2 separate regions of the Homo sapiens genome follow, and region 2 is linked to region 1. The links come from fine-mapping of genetic effects on gene expression. A gene starts in region 1. The other region holds a variant in brackets. All regions are shown on one strand. Distances are from middle to middle. Region 1 holds the start of KLF14 (KLF transcription factor 14). Region 2 overlaps LOC105375508 (a long non-coding RNA gene).

What was found. PIP is the estimated chance that this variant, and not a neighbour inherited with it, causes the effect.
Region 2: its variant is the best candidate, but not a certain one, in a credible set for the expression of KLF14 in subcutaneous fat (FUSION, PIP 0.58).

The regions. Positions count from the first base shown.
Region 1 is chr7:130,731,687-130,737,065 of GRCh38, reverse strand. It overlaps KLF14 (KLF transcription factor 14), which reads left to right and starts at 2,859. Exons shown (of 1, transcript NM_138693.4): 1 at 2,859-5,379. The coding sequence starts at 3,033. The coding sequence ends at 4,004. LOC105375508 (a long non-coding RNA gene) reads right to left here and starts at 2,802. Exons shown (of 4, transcript XR_927978.3): 1 at 2,684-2,802; 2 at 97-145. RefSeq lists silencers at 3,046-3,125, 3,196-3,355 and an enhancer at 3,251-3,788.
Region 2 is chr7:130,754,880-130,760,258 of GRCh38, reverse strand. All of the region lies in intron 3 of LOC105375508 (a long non-coding RNA gene), which reads right to left. Among named protein-coding and RNA genes, the nearest start is that of KLF14, 23 kb to the right of the region's middle. The variant AAAAAAC/C (reference allele first, on the strand shown) is at 2,565.

The DNA.
Region 1 (5,379 bases):
ACTTTACACCATTCAAAAAAAATAAGTCCCAGATAGATCAATCTCGTGTGGAAAGCAAAACTTTAAAACATTAAGGAAGAAGACATAAGAGGCTACCTTTATGCATCAGGTATGGAGAGGTTTCTTTAATAATCCACAAATGACACTATAAAGAAAGAGATCAATGAATATGAGTACATTTTAAATTGTCTATAGTACAAAAGACATCAAAAGCAGTTAAAAGACAAGCCACAGACTGAGACAATATATTTAATGTTTACACGCATGAATTCCTACAAATCAGGAGGAAAAAAGATAAAACATACACGATCTACTGAAAAAAATGAATGAAGACTGTGAAAAAACAAATCACAGACTTGGAAACCTCAATAACCAACAAACATATGGGGAAAAAATGCTTAACTTTGCTAGCAGTGAGGGAAATTCAAATAAGACAACAAGATACTGTTTTTTAAAATAATCAAATTGGCAGGAATAATAAAAATCTTAATCTAGAAAGTGTTGAAGATCATGTGAGGGAAACGTGAACTGTCACACACTTCTGATGGGTGTGCAAATTGAAGCATTTGGCAGTCTCTCGCAAAACTGAAAATGTGTGTGGAGCCCGGCAATTCCCCATCTAGGTAGATACATAGAGAAATTCTCACATATGTGCAAAGGAAACATGTACAAGTAGTACCAAAATATTGGCAGCAGTTTAATATTCATCAATAGGGGAATGAATAAACAGGACACATTTGTATGCATGGATCCACACTATAGCAATTAAAATGAATGAATTGGATCTATATTTATCAACACGAAGAGAAAAAATAAAAACATACCATGAATGAAAAAAATAAGTCCAAGAATAATATGCACAGCCTAATACCATGTTTGTACATTTAAAAAAATCATATAAACCAATATTCTGCATTTTATAGGTTCACATCCAGTTAAATTGTAAAACCCAGACTGGAAAGTTACATACCAAATTCATGTTAGTGTTTGCCTTTGGGGAAAAGGGTGGAGAATGGTATTGGGGGCAGTACAAGGGGACCTTCAATTTTATCAGAAATGTTGAATACTTAATAGATCTGAGGGAGATATAACAAAATGTTAACATATTCATTATATGAGACAGGTATATGGGTGCTTGTAATGTTCTCTCTGCATTTTAAATATCTTCACATTTTTTCTAAATAATAAAATTAAAACAGCTAGTAAATTATTCTATCTGATAGATTTTAATGTGTAGATTAACGAAGAGTTAATCGTCTAGAGGAACTTCAGAAAAATTAACTGTTTTGCAATGGAATCGCCTTAAAAATAATAACACTGACAATATTATTTAAAAACTGCTGAAATGAATAAAGTAGATTCTATAGGTGTCAACCTGGATAGCTGTCAAAATCATATTGAGGGAAAGAAGTTGCAAAATGATATGTATACTAGTGAACCATTTACTTAAAAATTTTAATAAATAAGCATGGAGATATACATATATTTACATGTATAATTAGGTAATACGGGTATCAAAACAAATGCAGATTAAATAGCCACTTTATAATACTAATTACCTAGAAAAGTGAAGAGGGAGAAAGGTGAATGGAACTGGGGAGGGAAACAAAGTGACATTCAACTCTATCTGTAATGTTTAATATAAATAAAAACATGAAACAACTATAACAAAAATTTCACATTTGATTACCCTAGGCAGTAAATACATGAACGTATGTTATTCTTGATACATACGTATTAATTTTCAAAAGAAAAAGTACTGAAGAACTACAAATAAAATGCACACAATTCACTCATATAAAAGCTTGTATACATCAAAAACTAAGATATGACTATTTTTAGAAATTATCCTGTTTGTTTTTCTATGTAGTTTTACATTTTTAAAAAGAAAAACGAGGGAAAAAATGAGAGCAATGAAGACACGTAAAAGAAACCGTACATGCATTTGATTATAAAAAAGGCAAACCTCCACAATCACAAAACACCATATGAGCATTCTATATCATGTGCTGCATTTCCTTACATTTAACTTTCGTCAAAAGCAAATTACAAGATAATGCCTAATTGGAAACGTGACTTTCTATTATTAAAATGGTGGGAGTCCATTTTAATGTGTTTATCTCGCCGCTAGACTATAATTTATATCTCAGCGTTTAAATTTGTTTGGATGCCAGTGACAGGTTAATGCAGTTTAAACATGCATTTTTCTTTCGTTGGCTGAATAGTTAAATCGTTACTCAAAGGATTTTAAGTTTCAATTTCAACCGGGAGAGGATTCTTTGCTTTTCCAAGGTTAAAACTGTTTCTGGTTCGAGATGCTATTAATTAATGGCTACGTAGCGGATCTATTTAGGGAACTGCTCCCGGCCCCGGGTTCACAGTTGACCTGCTCAATGAGAAAACTTTTTTTGCTACAGACTTGGGGATATTTGCAATTTAGTCTGAGAGCGGCGAACGGGGAGTGAAATGGAATTCGAGACCACTTCGCTAACAATCGCAATTATGAACCGAAAGACATGTCAGGTATTAGCAATTTTTTTCCTTAAAAAAAAAAAAAACTTTCTGGGACTCCGCGGGACACCCAGCTGGCGACGGACCAGCGGGCGGCGGGCTGCGGGGAGGGGGGGCGAGGCTGCTGCAACCCAGAAGTTCCGACTGGGGAGTTTCGCTCTGTTACCATTACCTGGCTCGCCGGCAGAAGAAAGAACGCGGAGACAAGATAATTTCTGAGGCTGTTAAACATGACTTAGCCGGGGGCCGCGCGTTCCGAGGGGGTGTCCTGCGGGCCGGGGCGGGTCTCTGCCGCCCCCGCGGGCTCCGGTGCGTCAGGGGCGCGTCAGGCGGGGCGGGCTCCGCGCGGGCGGCGGCGGCAGCGGCGGCTGCGGCGGCGGCGGCGGCAGCAGGCGGCAGGCGGCGAGCACCCGGCCTCCTGCTTCTCGCTCCGAGGCTGCGGGACGGACGCTCCCGGGAACTCCGTCGCCCGCGGCCGGCCGCGTTCGGACGGCGCTCGCCGGCGGCCGGGCGGTCCCAGCATGTCGGCCGCCGTGGCGTGCCTGGACTACTTCGCCGCCGAGTGCCTGGTGTCCATGTCCGCGGGCGCCGTGGTTCACCGCCGCCCGCCGGACCCCGAGGGCGCGGGTGGAGCCGCTGGCTCGGAGGTGGGTGCGGCGCCGCCGGAGTCCGCTCTGCCGGGTCCGGGGCCACCGGGGCCCGCGTCGGTCCCCCAGCTCCCGCAGGTCCCCGCCCCCAGCCCCGGCGCGGGCGGCGCCGCGCCCCACCTGCTGGCTGCAAGCGTCTGGGCGGACTTGCGCGGCAGCTCTGGCGAGGGCTCCTGGGAGAACTCGGGGGAAGCTCCACGCGCCTCGTCCGGCTTCTCCGACCCGATCCCGTGCTCCGTCCAGACCCCGTGCTCCGAGCTGGCTCCCGCCTCCGGCGCCGCGGCGGTCTGCGCTCCCGAGAGCTCCTCCGATGCGCCCGCCGTCCCAAGCGCGCCTGCTGCCCCGGGCGCACCAGCAGCCTCTGGTGGGTTCTCTGGAGGGGCCCTAGGGGCAGGCCCCGCCCCCGCCGCGGATCAGGCGCCCCGGAGGAGGTCTGTCACACCTGCTGCCAAGCGCCACCAATGCCCCTTCCCGGGCTGCACCAAAGCCTATTACAAGTCGTCGCACCTCAAGTCCCACCAGCGCACCCACACGGGTGAGCGCCCTTTCTCCTGCGACTGGCTCGACTGCGACAAGAAGTTTACGCGTTCCGACGAGCTGGCCCGCCACTACAGGACGCACACGGGCGAGAAGCGCTTCTCCTGCCCCCTCTGCCCCAAGCAGTTCTCCCGGAGCGACCACCTGACCAAGCATGCTCGCCGCCACCCAACCTATCATCCAGATATGATCGAGTACCGGGGACGTCGTCGAACTCCCCGCATCGACCCGCCACTCACCAGCGAGGTGGAAAGCTCCGCCTCCGGCTCCGGTCCCGGCCCGGCGCCCAGCTTCACCACCTGCCTGTAGGACAGTCATTGCTGTCAGTCTTACCCTCAAGGATGATCCCCCAGGCCGTTGTCCCTGCTTTCTCTCTGCCCATCCTTCTTTCCCAGAGTCATTACACCAAGGCACAGACTGGTTCCTCTGCTCTGAGGGTGGGTCCAGGCAGACATGTGGACTCTGGGGAGGTACTGGGGGCCGGAAAATAGCGGGAATTCTTGCAACGTGTATATCATCCTAAAAGTGGGGGTTGCCTCAAGACAGCCCCCAGGAACTGATAAGAAGGGATGAACTCCCGTACTCTCCAGAGTACTGAAGATTCTCCCCTCCCTGGAACCAGGGATGTGAAACTGGAATTCTCAGATGCCTGAGGAGCTCCCAGTCTCAAAGGACTCTGGTGTCTCACCCATCCACCAGGGCGGACCTTGGAGAGGGTGTCAGGGGTGGCAGTCTTGGAAATGTCCAGGACTGGGATGGTGAGAGGCCTTTGGAAACAGAAATGATTTCTATTTCTGTAAACAGCAATGTTTACTAATTTATTTTTAGCATCTTTTAAATAGGGATCCCAGGTTGATGGGAGGCTTATGCCCTCCAATCCCCCAATTGCCCCAGCTACCTCTGCTAGGAGAGGCCACATAAGCTCCATGTAGATGTGTGGCTGGGAGATACTTCTTGATGTCTGGGGTGTGAGTCTGTTTGCAGGTCCTGTTGCATGATTTGGAACCCTGCGCTTGCGTCGTAGCCCTTCTCCCCATTTGGATTCCTACTTGAGGATGGTAACTTCCTGGCTCACTCTCACGCTGAGATTGGTTAAACAATTTGAAAACTACCGTAAAGGCACCAGCAAGAAAAGGGTGGTCCAGACTAGTTCCCCCTTCACTCAGAGAGAAAACTCAAGCGACCTTAAGTTTGGGCGGGGCCCGAAACAAGACCGCTCATAACCATTGATAACTTTCAGGGAAATAGAGGCGTGTGGACACAGCTGCCCCACCTTATGTAATCTCAGGAGTGGTAGATTCTGTTAATTTCCTAATGGCTAACTAGGGGGTTATTTCCCTCAGAGTCTGCAGATTTTCGTTTCTGAAACAGGTGAGTTGGTGGGTGGGAGAGGGAAGGGTAACAGACTGGTTTCTTCCAAGGAGCTGGCTGCCTTGGATTTGAGGAAGGAGTAGCAAGGTGATAGCTATTATGAAATAGGAGGAACTTTCTCCTCTGACCATATAGTCCCTCCAAGTTATATCCTCAGGGCCCCTTTCCCGATAAGAAGGAATCAGACATCAACAGTATTTGTTTTTTCTATATGTGTCTCTGCTGCTGTGGATGAAATCACTGACCACTCTGCTTGTGTATGTATGAATGTGTATATATGTGACCCTTTCTTTAGAGATGAGGCTGAAAGGCA
Region 2 (5,379 bases), 23 kb before region 1:
TTTGATAGGGAGAACAAAAATGAAGGTTCAAATGGATGGTGAGACCTACTACATGTCTAGATACAAGACTTAATTTAATATTATAAAGATATAAACTCTCCCCAAATAAATTTCTATATTTCTCACAATCTAAATATCAATGGAATTTTAAGCCGGGCACAGTGGCTCACGCCTATAATCTCCCAGCACAGCCGGGCGCGATGGCTCACACCTGTAATCCCAGCACTTTGGGAGGCCAAGGCAGGCGGATCATGAGGTCAGGAGATAGAGACCATCCTGGCTAACATGGTGAAACCCCGTCTCTACTAAAAATACACAAAAAAAATTAGCCAGGCGTAGTGGCAGGAGCCTGTAGTCCCAGCTACTCAGGAGGCTGAGGCAGGAGAAGGGCATGAACCCAGGAGGCGGAGCTTGCAGTGAGCCGAGATCACGCCACTGCACTCCAGCCTGGGCAACAAAGCTAGACTCCGTCTCAAAAAAAAAAAAAAAAAAAATCTCCTAGCACTTTGGGAGGCCAAGGCGGGCAGATCACCTGAGGTCAGGAGTTCGAGACCAACCTGGCCAACATGGTGAAACCCAGCCTCTACTAAAAATACAAAAATTAGCCAGGCATGGTAGCACACGCCTGTAATCCCAGCTCGGGAGGCTGAGGCAGGAGAATCACTTGGACCCGTGAGGCGGAGGTTGCAGTGAGCTGAGATCGCGCCACTGCACTCCAGCCTGGGTGACAAGAGCAAAACTCCATCTCAAAAAAAAAAAAAAAAAAAAATTAGCCAGCCATGGTGGTGGGTGCCTGTAATCCCAGCTACTTGGGAGGCTGAGCCAGGAGAATCTCTTAAAACTCAGGAGGCAGAGGTTGCAGCGAGCAGAGATCGCACCACTTTACTTCAGCCTGGGAGACAGAGTGAGACTCTGTCTCAAATAAATAAATAAATAAATAAATAAATAAATAAATATCGATGGAATTTTAAAAATGAACAAAATTTTTCTAAAGTTCACCTGAAAAAGTAACAGTGGGAAAAAGGGGAAAACTATTTTGAGAACGAATAATGTTATACTAGTGAATGTAGTAATACAAGAAAATTTTCAAAATATATTAACTTGTTTAAAGTACATTACAAAATGTCATGGGCATAAATTCTGTTAAAACATAAATTATCCATAAAAAGTGGCTTGTAGCAGATATAGCAAAATGTTGTAAGTGGTTATCTTTTGGTGAAGAAAATAATGGACTTTTTAAAAACTCATCTGTTTCCCAAATTTTCCAAAATAAACGTCAAATATACCCGTATAATACATTACTATTGTATAGAGGAAGAAATAATAGGTGCTCCTTTTATAAAAACTCAGATAACATCTAATTCTTCAGGAAGTCTTTCCTTGTCTAACCCCATCCCTCCAGATCTGGACTAGGAGGCTTTTTACTATTTTCAGATACAGTATCATAATTATTTGCTCTTCTCTATTCCAACTTTGTAAGAGTTTGATAAATAAAACTGTGTCTTTTATTTCTGTATCTCTAATACAGGAACTACTATGTATCAGGATGCAATGAATAAATATGAAAAAAAGAAATAAATAAGAAAATTCACAACTTCTTCTACCACCACTAGAGGGAACCACATTCCCTTTAGTGAGCTCCCTCTAGGAGCTTTTATCTTTTTAAACAAGACTGTTCAAATCTAAGAAACCTTCTAGAAGGGATTATCTCCTGATGGGGACTGTTATAAACATTCCTAAAAATGATATGTCTATCCTAAAATTAGTCCCAAAATATTCCAAGATATTTTATCTTATCCAAATACTGGACTCAATATCTGCTCCATACATTTTGGCACTAATCAAAAGCAATTTTATTGGTTATCAAATTGTAGCCTGTGTCTGTCTTACCTCCACAACAAGAGAGTAAGCTCATGTTTAAGATCATTTCTCTCACATTAACCAGCTCAGGTATAATCACTAAATTTGTGCAAAAACACTTTATTTTAGTTAAAAGGTTAACATGCTCCCTTCAATCATGTGCCACACTAAGAAAATCCAACAGGCAACGTTCCAAACTTACAAAACACAAAAGTTATGTGTTGATTCTAAGAATACTCTCAGATTTATTGAAGGTTTCAACAGATAGTGACAATAAAAAGCCTCTCTTGATACACTTAAAATATTAGCCTGGTTTTCGAATTAAAGTGGTAGCTACTTTTACAAGGGATAGTTACGATTTAGAGAATAACAGCCTATTCCTGATGAGACTTGGGAGCCAGACACGTCAAATTAAGGGGAAGAGGTATCTCCAGAAGAACGTGGAACTGGGATTTGCTTCATTTTTTTTTTTTTTAAGTTGGGGGCATCTGTTACTTGCAGAGCTCTGTGTTGTAAGGGCTGGAATACACGTATAGTTTAGAAAAAAAAAAAAAGACCAGGCCAGGCGCAGTGGCTCATGCCTATAATCCCAGCACTCCGGGAGGCCGAGGCAGGCAGATCACAGGGTCAGGAGTTTGAGACCAGCCTGACCAACATGGTAAAACCCCATCTCCACTAAAAATACAAAAAAAAAAAAAAAAAAA[AAAAAAC/C]TAGCTGGGCATGGTGGTGCACGCCTGTAACCCCAGCTACTCAGGAGGCTCAGGCAGGAGAATCGCTTGAACCACAGAGGTGGAGGTTGCTGTGAGCCGAGATCACGCCATTGCACTCCAGCCTGGGTGACAGAGCGAGACTCCGTCTCAAAAAAGAAAAGAAAAGAGAAGAGAAGTAAAAGACCAGTGGCAACAGTAGTTAGTAGGTCTCCAGCACTGTCCACCAGGGGCCTGGTGGCTACCAGAGCTCAAATCCCAGTTCCATTACCTACTAATTTGTGTGAGCTCAAACAACTTACTCAACCTGTCAATGTGTCTGATGCCCCGGTGCAAAATGGGGAGGACAATCAGAACCTACTGCATCAGACTCTCACGAGGAGTAAATGAAATAACGTGAAAAGTTCTCAGAATAGTACCTGTATGTGGTAAATGCTCAAAATATTCACTATTACTCATAAACTCATTCAACCAATTACACAGAAAGACTTTAACAAACAGTGCCTGGCACAGAATAGGCACTATGAGTGTGGCCTGTTATTATTATATGGGAGAGAGAAGGGCCCCGGATACTCCCTAAGTTTCTTGATCCCCTTGAAAGATGTATTCCCATCCCACGTGCATGGTCATCAGGCTATCCCACAGCTTCCTAACACCAGCTACTATGATTATGCCTGCAACAACCTTTATTCTGATTCCAGATTCAGTAAATAACCTTTTGTTAGTAAGTTAGCATCCTATGTAAGCATTTTGCTAAGAAGAAATGTACTGGCAAACTGATACTAATATCACCAATATGGCAGTCTTTATTAGTTAAGGATAGAAAATACGATCACATTTCCATTAACGTTCAATTTGGAGGGACTTTAAGCCCCTTCCTGACCAAATTAGTAGGAATTAAGACTTTCCAGTGATTCTTTTCCCACGAATATTATGAAGGAAATAAAGTTCATTCAATTAAATCAACAAATATTTATTAAGCACTTGCTGTGTGCCTGACACCGTTCAAAGCATTATAGTTAAAGCAGTGAACAAAACAGATCCCTGCTTTCATAGGGCTAGCATTCTAGTGAAGGAGACAAATGAGAAATAAGGGGTGGGTTAAATAATATCAGAGCTAGAGAGTACTAAGTAGCAAGAAGAGAAAGCAACAAGTGAAAGGATCTATAAGAAGAAAGGGGTAAGGGTGATGCAATCTTAGGTAGAGAAGCCAGGGATATCAGGAGATAAGGGTGGCATCCATTTGTTTGAGAGCCAGTTAACTCCGTGGCTCATCTGCTATAACAAGTTGGGAGAGCCAGCTTCAAATGTTCCCCAATCCAGGTCAATCCCCACAACTGTTTGTTCACCCCATACCTCCCCTCCTGCTGAACTAAGGGGCATCCAGGGCTACTCCACCACTGCCAGGACTGCCTCTCTCACATGCAATCCTGCAAATCCACAGCCCCAGCCTCCTCTGCTACCACTCCCTCTGACAAAGACCACAGAGGCCAGTGGGGCCCAACTTCCAGGCCCTCCACAGGACAAGAGCAGCTCTTCCTACCCCAGAACCTCTTTGGCCTCCTCATACCTCCAAGTTGGGCCCAGCAATCACAGAACATCCCTCCCTCTTTCCTTTTCAACCATAGAATTAGCCACCTCCTATAATGACAGGAAGAAAGGGCTTCCTGGCCTAAATAGGCAATCCCCAAATAAAATAGCCCAACTTTGATCAATTTCCTAAGGTCTGGGTATCCATCCCAGTCTCAAGGACCTTGTTACAAGAGTATTCTGTTCCAGGGGTTAGCCAATGTTTTCTGTAAGGCGCCAAAGAATAAATATTTCAAGATTTCAAGCCATATGGGTTTTCTGTTGTAGATTCTTCTTTTTGTTTTGCAACCCATTAAAACTGCTTTAAAAATGTTCTTAGCTCATGGGCTGTACAAAAACAGCCTGCAGACCACAGTTTGACAACCCCCATTCTAATCCATTTGTTTGTTGATTACATTAAAATTAATAAATTGTTGAGGCCAGGTGAGGTGGCTCATGCCTGTAATCTCAGCACTCTGGGAGGCTGAGGCAGGAAGATCCCTTGAGCCCAGGTGTTTGAGGCTGCAGTGAGCTATGATGGCACCACTGCACTCCAGCTGTGGCAACAGAATAAGACCCTGACTCTAAATAATAAGTTGTTATGGTTTATAAATCAGTGTTCTGTTGGTTTATTCAGCATTCACAAGATACAATGACCTGCTCCATCAGATGACGTGTCACTTTGTAAGAACTGGTACATAGTAGGCACTGATTTGTTGCAGAGTGAGATGTACTTTTTGAACAGCAGGCTTGCTGTTGCTCTTGGTTACTCTTCAAGAGAGAATTGTCTTGAGAAGACCTAGATAGACTGCTTTGAATATGGAGGGTGACACCCCATGGCATGGCTGGAAAGGAGACAGTACAGAGAGAGAGTCACGCTGCTCTGCAGGACTCATCCATGAGCAGAGGAAAGTTGGGGAAATTCGTAGGTGGGAATGGAGGGGAAATGGGGGGGACCACATATGAGGTGACTGAGGCCCATGAGGGAAGGTGAAAAGAAGCACAGTCCTGTGGCAGAGCGGCCAAAGACTTTTTAAGTAAAATCAATGAGACTGTCGAACATTGCCTTTGAAGTTATCTGCACTGCTGAAATACAAACCCCTTCTCGATCCCAAACCTCTAGTCTGTGGCTTTTTCTTTTTCTTTACAAGCAAGGCTACTGGAGCTAACTTCAGAACGGCAGGATTTATTGGAAAATATGCAGCAAATCAAAGAATTAAAGGAACTATTGAAAAGCAAGGAT